2 linked regions of the Homo sapiens genome follow. The protein of the gene in region 1 interacts with the protein of each later gene in a pairwise test. Each region holds a gene or a part of one and is shown on either strand. Other genes may lie near its edges.

What was found.
Region 2: the proteins of TSNARE1 (region 1) and ELOVL5 interact in a two-hybrid assay, tested with the Homo sapiens proteins (one large-scale study listed by BioGRID).

What each region holds. Positions count from the first base shown.
Region 1 is NC_000008.11:142,396,610-142,400,425, reverse strand, and holds part of TSNARE1 (t-SNARE domain-containing protein 1), read left to right. Parts: intron 1-3,816.
Region 2 is NC_000006.12:53,338,951-53,342,766, reverse strand, and holds part of ELOVL5 (very long chain fatty acid elongase 5), read left to right. Parts: intron 1-3,816. UniProt on the Homo sapiens protein: Catalyzes the first and rate-limiting reaction of the four reactions that constitute the long-chain fatty acids elongation cycle.

The sequences.
Region 1 (3,816 bases):
TGCCCAGGCTGGAGGGCGTTGGTGCAATCTTGGTTCACTGCAACCTCTGCCTCCTGGGTTCAAGTGATTTTCCTGCCTCAGCCTTCCGAGTAGCTGGGATTACAGGGGCCTGCCACCACGCCTGGCTAATGTTTTGTATTTTAAATAGAGACGGGGTTTCACCATGTTGGCTAGGCTGGACTCAAACTACTGACCTTTAGGTGATCAACCTGCCTCAGCCTCCCAAAGTGCTGGGATTACAGGCGTGAGCCACTGTGCCCAGCCACTTCTTCTTTTTGGCCAGGCTAGACTCAAGCTCCTGACCTTCAGGTGATCAACCTGCCTGAGCCACACACTGTAATCCCAGGTGTGAGCCACCGTGCCCAGCCACCTCTTTTTTTTTTTTTGAGATAGGCGTGTCTCACTGTGTTGCCCAGTTGCCCAGGCTGGTCTTGAACTCCTGGCCTTAAGCCATCCTCTGGCCTCAGCCTCCCGGAGTGCTGGGATTCCCAGCGTGAGTCATGGCGTCTGGCTCCAGGCTTTTTGTTTTAATGCACACGGGCGTTTCTGTGGCTACTGGGTTTGTTTGGATGGTGTTACTTGCTACAAGTAGACTTTGACCTTGTGGCCCAGTCCAGCTGTCATTCATTGTGTTCTTTAAAGTCTGATTTGTGCATCGTCCATAGTAGCAGACTCCTGAGCAGCCCTCCTCTCAGATTCCTCTGCTTTCTGCTGGGATGCTCAGCCCTGTCTAAACATTTGTGGCATCTGTGTGTGGAGCAGTGGTGACCAAAAGACTAAAGGCAAGAAGGAGTGAGTGAGAGAGTTGGAGAGCTCATGGCCGGCGCTGTCCCTCCAGAGGTGACAGTCAGTTGTTCAGTGTGGATGCTTATGTTTGGCTCTGCTCTCTGTACTGAGGGCATCCTCATCCTCTCCCTCTTGGGCGCATTGAGGCAGCTGGGGAAGATCATCATTCCTCCTGCCCCCACGGTCCCCAGCGCCAGTGGTGGACTCTGTACCTTTCCACACCTCCCTGTCTGCCACCCCACCCGCGGGGAGCTGTGCGTCTCTGAACGTCCATCCAGCTGTGGCCCAGGGCCTGGGGCCCAGTGAATGCCCGATGGGGATTTGCTGAAGACGTGAGGGGTTGTTTCACAGCTGATCTTGAGCCTGTGCTGTTCTTATTCCACTATCCTTCCTGTTAGTGCTGCATGGTGGAGCCATCTGGAAGCTTCCATAGGAAGAGTTTTCTTGGTCTGAGTTCCCTGGCAGAGAAGAAGGGCACTACCAACAATGACAAGCCAGGTGCCTTGAATAGGTTTCTGAAGATGCCTTATGGGCGGGGTGTCCTCACCTACGGAGCCCAGTTGGGCGGTGTCTCCTGCAGGGGCCTTGCTTCGGGGTGTCCTGCTTGCCATCCAGGGCTGTCCTCAGAAGCCAGCTGTGGCTGTCCTGCCTGGCCTTATCCAGGCTATGAGATTCTCTCGTCAACTTGCGGCTTGCTGAGTCTGGGATGGGGGTGAAGGTGGCTCCGTGTGGGCTTCAAATCCGGACTGTGCTGCACAGGGCCCTTCCTTTTTTGTCCTTGGGTAGGTCCTGTTAGGATGTGAACCCACTTGGGGGCCACTGCAGGCAAGCAGGACAGTCTACTGGGTGTTCCTGCCTGGACAGGGTCATTGGCAAGTCCCCAGCCCCTGCCCCTGCCATCAGGGCTGCTGTCTGAGATGTGTAATGTTCTGTGAGACTATGCTAAGGCCATGCCTGGCATGAGTCTTGGGATGGACACAGTGGCAAGCAGGATCAGGCTGTCCTGGCCTTGCTCCGGACACTGCTGTGCACCTTACAGAGCAAGGTCGAGGCAGTGGAGTGAGGAGGTGGAGAGGGCACCTTACAGAGCAAGGTTGAGGCGGTGGAGTGAGGAGGTGGAGAGGGCACCTTACAGAGCAAGGTTGAGGCGGTGGAGTGAGGAGGTGGAGAGGGGAGCTGACTCTGCTGGGGTTGTGCTTTGGCAGGGCTGGGGATGTGCTTTGGGAGGGTTTGGGGGCATATTTTGGGGCTGGAGGTGTGTTTTGGGTAGGGCCGGGGGCATGTTTTGGGCAGGGCTAGGGGTGTGTTTTGGGCAGGGCTGGGGGTGTGTTTTGGGCAGGGCTGGGGACATGTTTTGGGCAGGGCTAGGGGTGTGTTTTGGGCAGGGCTGGGGGTGCGCTTTGGGAGGGTTTGGGGGTGCGTTTTGGGCAGGGCTGGGTAGATACCTGGGAAGAATCCTGGATGCTGGTGAGGCCTGAGCTGTGTCTGGAGAGCTGAGTGGCCTTAGCTGGGGAGGGCAGGAGAGGCAGCTACTCCAGGCAGCGGGAGGCCCAAGGGAAGGCACAGCAGTGCTGGACTCCTAGTAGGCAGGTCTGACTCGGGTCAGCCTGTGAGGGTCTTGGGAGGCAGGGTGAGGCCTGGGCTTTTCTGATGGCTGTTGGTGCTGAGCAGGGAACCCGGGGCCCAGGCTGAGGTTTGCCGAAGAGGTCTGGAGACAGGGCTGGGTGGAGCAGTGCCACACCGAGGGCCTGTGTCTGGAGCCTGCAGGGGCCAGGCTCCATGCCTTGGCACTGTGTGCTGGGTGCCTTGTGGTGGCTGCGCTGTGGGCCCCCTCGATGGATTGGTGGGCTAGCCACGCAGCTGAGTGGACTGGCAGCAGCTGCTGCTCATTGTCCTGGCAACCCTGGGCTTCAGGCTGCAGGCTCGAGCCCTCCCCAGCATGGAAGCCAGTGAGCAGAGCCAGGCACTCACGCTGGCCTGGGAGCCTCTGGCCCAGTGCTGTGGCCAGATCAACTGTTGTTTTCTTCCACAGTGGAAGATTGCCTCGTTTTCTCCCTCTGATTTGCCCTGTGGGGAGGGCTACAACCCAGCCCTGACTTACGTAACATCCAGGTAGGGACACAGCATTGCCACATCTTAGCCGTGGGACCCTGGCCATGTCACTTGGCCCCTCCAGGAGCCCTGCCTTTCCATGTCATTAGTCTGATCCTGCAGCCTCCTGGGAGGTGGGCAGCATTGTGTCTGTCCCAGAGACTTGGAATCTCCGGGCGTCTTGGGGGACATCACCTGAGGGGTGTAGGGAAGAATTCCCAAGGTGCACAGAGGGGCTGTGGAAGGTCAGGGAGTGCAGCCCCAGGGTAGGCGGAGCTGCCTCTCTCCTGTGAGACCCTCGGGCTGCCTCGCCACTGCCACACAGAGGGGCTGTGGAAGGTCAGGGAGTGCAGCCCCAGGGCAGGCGGAGCTGCCTCTCTCCTGTGAGACCCTCGGGCTGCCTCGCCACTGCCACACATAGGGGCTGTGGAAGGTCAGGGAGTGCAGCCCCAGGGCAGGCGGAGCTGCCTCTCTCCTGTGAGACCCTCGGGCTGCCTCGCCACTGCCACACATAGGGGCTGTGGAAGGTCAGGGAGTGCAGCCCCAGGGCAGGTGGAGCTGCCTCTCTCCTGTGAGACCCTCGGGCTGCCTCGCCACTGCTACACACATCACAGAGCTTGCTCTACCTGGTCAGCCATGGCACGGCCAGCTCGCACAGTAGACCTGAGCGTCAGGCTGTCTTGGATTCTGATTATAACAACACCTCCTGCTTTTGACCACAGGGCATCTGTCAGGCACCTGCTAGGCTCTTCCTGCTCCTCAGATCAGGAAACTTCCCAGCCTTGGGAAACTTACCTGAAGTCACGGGGGTGGTAAATGCCCAGCCATGACTTGAGCCCTGGTGTTCTCACCAGGATTCTGATCAGAGGCAGAAATCAGAGGCATTGCTCACCGTTCTGCTGCCCGGCCCACCTGGCGATCCTGCCCTGCTGCTCTCCA
Region 2 (3,816 bases), on another chromosome or scaffold:
ACCTTTTATTTGATGTCTGCTGGCTGACTGGGATTTAGGGAAAAATTTCTGATTTATTTTAAGATTTTTAGTGCTGATACTGGCATGCTTTCTCTAATTGGGAGAATAACAATTTTATTGAAATATACCTGTGATTTTAAACTGTAATCTTTATGGTTATATTAGGTAGGCACCCTCTTGCGAGCACAGGTTCCATCTCTGTTAAGTTCCACATTTACCCCATCCTTTTCCTCATGTCAACAATTTCATCCTGTCAGAATTAATCTCTTATAAGCCCATGCTGAACAGACCTAATTGAAGCCATGCTGGCGAATTGGCCACTCAGGTCTGTGTTTTATGAGTTTCTGAACCCCAGAGTAGTACTTGTTCCTCTTTGGTCTTGGCACAGCAAATGCTACAACAAAGTGAGTGTTATGAATTTCTCCTTCCCTGAAGAATAGTTCTCATGATACCAAATTCAGTAATTATTCATTTGCTTCCAGGGGAGTTTGAAATGTGATGTATCTCCCTAGGGGTAGTATTCAGGGTACTTCTGCTTCAGTCTTTGGCAGAAGAAATAATACTTCAATATTTACAGAAGTCGTTGACGCCTCCATCAGCTGTATTTGTTAGAAGCATCTGTGTGAAAATTTGAGTTTGCTTCTGTCCGAACTTCTGCATATTAATCTCTGTGATGGATCTGAGGTGCATTTAAAAGAATACCTCCTGTACTTCTTTTAAGTAAGGACAGCTGTGGGAAGCAGATTGGGTTGGCAGCCTGCACCTATGCGGGGTTCCACCTCTGCCACTTAACAGCTGCGTGGGCTTCAGCAGGTAAGTCACTCTACCTCCTTGAGACCCTAGAATCTATGTAGAACTTGGAAGGTGATAATCCTGTGCCTACTTTGGAGGGTATTAAAACTATCAGTATTGTACATGAAAGTTAGGTGGGGCACTGACTTAATTTAATTAGCATAGTAAAAACGTCTCTCTGTTATATAGGATGTTTATTGAAGCATTGTTTCTAATAGCAAAAGATTGGAAGAGTTAGTAGACTAAATGTCCTTGAAAAGAATAAATCATGCTACAGCTGGGCAACGGAATATTCTGCAAATTTTAAAGAGAACAAAGCTGTTCTATGGGTACTGAATATAGCTGCTTGGTACCACATAATAGGCACTTTTCTGAAGTGTTCAACATGTATTAATTCATTGTGGCTTCACAAAAGCCCACGAGGTAGGGACCCCAATTTTACAGATGAGGAAACTAAGATAAAGGTTAAGTCACTTGTCCAAATATCCACAGCTAGTAGGTGGCAGAGGCAGGATTCAAACCCAGGCAGATTGGCTTAAAGACTCTAATCTTGGCCACCCTGCTGTGCTGTACACCTGTCAGACCTAAGTAGTGATCTTTGTATTTGCAGCTTTAGATACATGAGAGGAAACAAGGTTGAGTTTCTTATTCATCGTTACATTCTGGGAGGCTGACGGTATAATCAACATATAGCTTCTGTTGACAGTAACTAAATAAAGGTTTAGATAAAGAAAGCTAATAGGGAATAACATTTATGATCAATACTTGAAAGGGTGACCGTTTGTTTCTTCCATTACTCCTTATTTTAGATATTTTGAACTTAAACCTCTTTTTTGGGGAAAATCAGAAGCGTACACACTGAATAGCTTACAATTGTTAGTGTAAGAAATCAGTGTTCAAAAGCCCAGTTGAGTCAGTGTTCACTAGCCTGACTGGTCTAGTGTGGCTGGATTAGTATGACTGGCCAAGGGCATCCAGCATTGGTTTCCTTACCCGGTCCTAGCCCCATCTGGTTTGATTTACAAGGTATATACGCTCAGAGAAATGCAGACGGGAGGGAAAGACACTCACATTCTTTAGGGAGCCTCTATCTCCAGATTGCCTGATCTCCCTTGGGTGAAAATGTAAGTCAGGTGTACAAGTCGTACAAGTCATGTATAGCTTGACAATGGGAATACTTTTTGAGAAATGTACTCTTAGGCAATTTTGTTGTTGTGTGTTCATCATAGAGTGTACTTAGACAAACCTAGATGGTTACCACATACATAGGGCATATGATATACCACATTGCTCCTAGGCTACAAACCTGTACAGCAAGTTACTGTACTGAATACTGTAGCTAGCTGTAACACAGTGGCAAGTATCTGTATATCTAAATGAAGAAAAGATATAGTAAAAATATAAAAGATAAAAAATGATACAACTATGTAGGGCACTTGCCATGAATGGAGCTTGCAGGACTGGAAGTTGCTCTGGGTAAGTCAGTGAGTGGGGAGTGAATGTGAAGGCCTAGGACTTTACTGTACACTCTAGACTTTATAAACACTGTATACTTAGGCTACATTAGGTTTATAAAAAATATTTTTTGATTAGGTGTGGTGGCTCATGTCTGTAATCTCAGCACTTTGTGAGGTTGAGGTGGGACCAGGCATTTAAGACCAGCCTGGGCAATATCACAAGACTCCATCTCTACTTATTTATAATAAAAGTTTTTTTAAAAATATGTATTATTTTAATATATATTTTTCTTCCTTAATACATAAACTGTAGCTTATTGTAACATTTCTATTTTATAAATTTTTTAAACTTTTTTACTCTTTTGTAATAATACTTAGCTTAAAACACAGGCTGTATGGCTGCAAAAAAAATATTTTATTTCTTCGTATCCTTATTCTTCAAGCTTTTTTTCTCCTTTTAAAGTTTTTTAAACTTTTTTGTTAAAAACTAAAACAAACATACACATTAGCCTAGGTCTGTACAGGGGCAGGATCATCAATGTCACCGTCTTCCATCTCCACATCTTGTCCCACTGAAAGGTCTGTAGGAGCAGTAACACACATGAGCTGTCATTTCCTATGACAACAATGCCTTCTTCTGGAATACCTCCTGAAGGACCTATCTGAAGCTGTTTCATAGTTAACTTTTTAAAATATGTAATTAGAAGGTGTACACTCAATTAATGATAAAAAAGTATAGTATACCAAATACATAAACCAATGACATAGTTCTTTATCATCAGCATCAAGCATTATGTACTGTCCATAATTTTATGTGTGATACTGTTACAGGTCTAGCTATGCAGTAGGTTTATTTACACCAACATCACCACAAATGTTTTATTGTGCTATGATGTCACTAGGCAATAGGAGTTTTTCAGCTCCATTATAATGTTACAGGAGTATCATTGTATATGTGGTCCATTGTTGATTTAAAGGTCATTATGCGATGCGTGACTATATTTTGAAAACATTCTGATAGAGAATGACATTAAGTCATTTTGATACAAGGCCCCATTAAGGGCCACTGTGCTGGGCCATGGTGTTCAGGCTATAGACAAGTCTGCCACCACCTTCAGTTCTCTTAGGATCCTTAGACTCTTTCAGAACTGAGTTTTCTTTCTGGGTGTGGGACACTAGGTTTGGCAACATTGTAATGGCTATAAGTATCAGCATTCCTAAAATAAGAGAATCACAAAATTCATGGGGTGGCTTATATATTCACATGGAATCTGAACAGGTGATAAAACAACTGTTGGTTTCAGAGACATGCTATAGAGGAGATGAATACACAGTTGCTAGACTGTGTGTCCCTTTGAAAAATGCTGTATTGTAGCAGGATTTTCCCCCATTTTTTACACATTTAACTTTGCTTCTCCCTCTCCTCACTCACCCTCACACCCAAACAACAGTTATAAAATGTGGGCGTGTAGATTGAGTTTTAAAAAAGAAATGTGTTTTTGTGTTATATGCCTTATTTATGTTACACAGGCTTGAATTAAAATCTTTTAAGACATTTTCGTTTGGG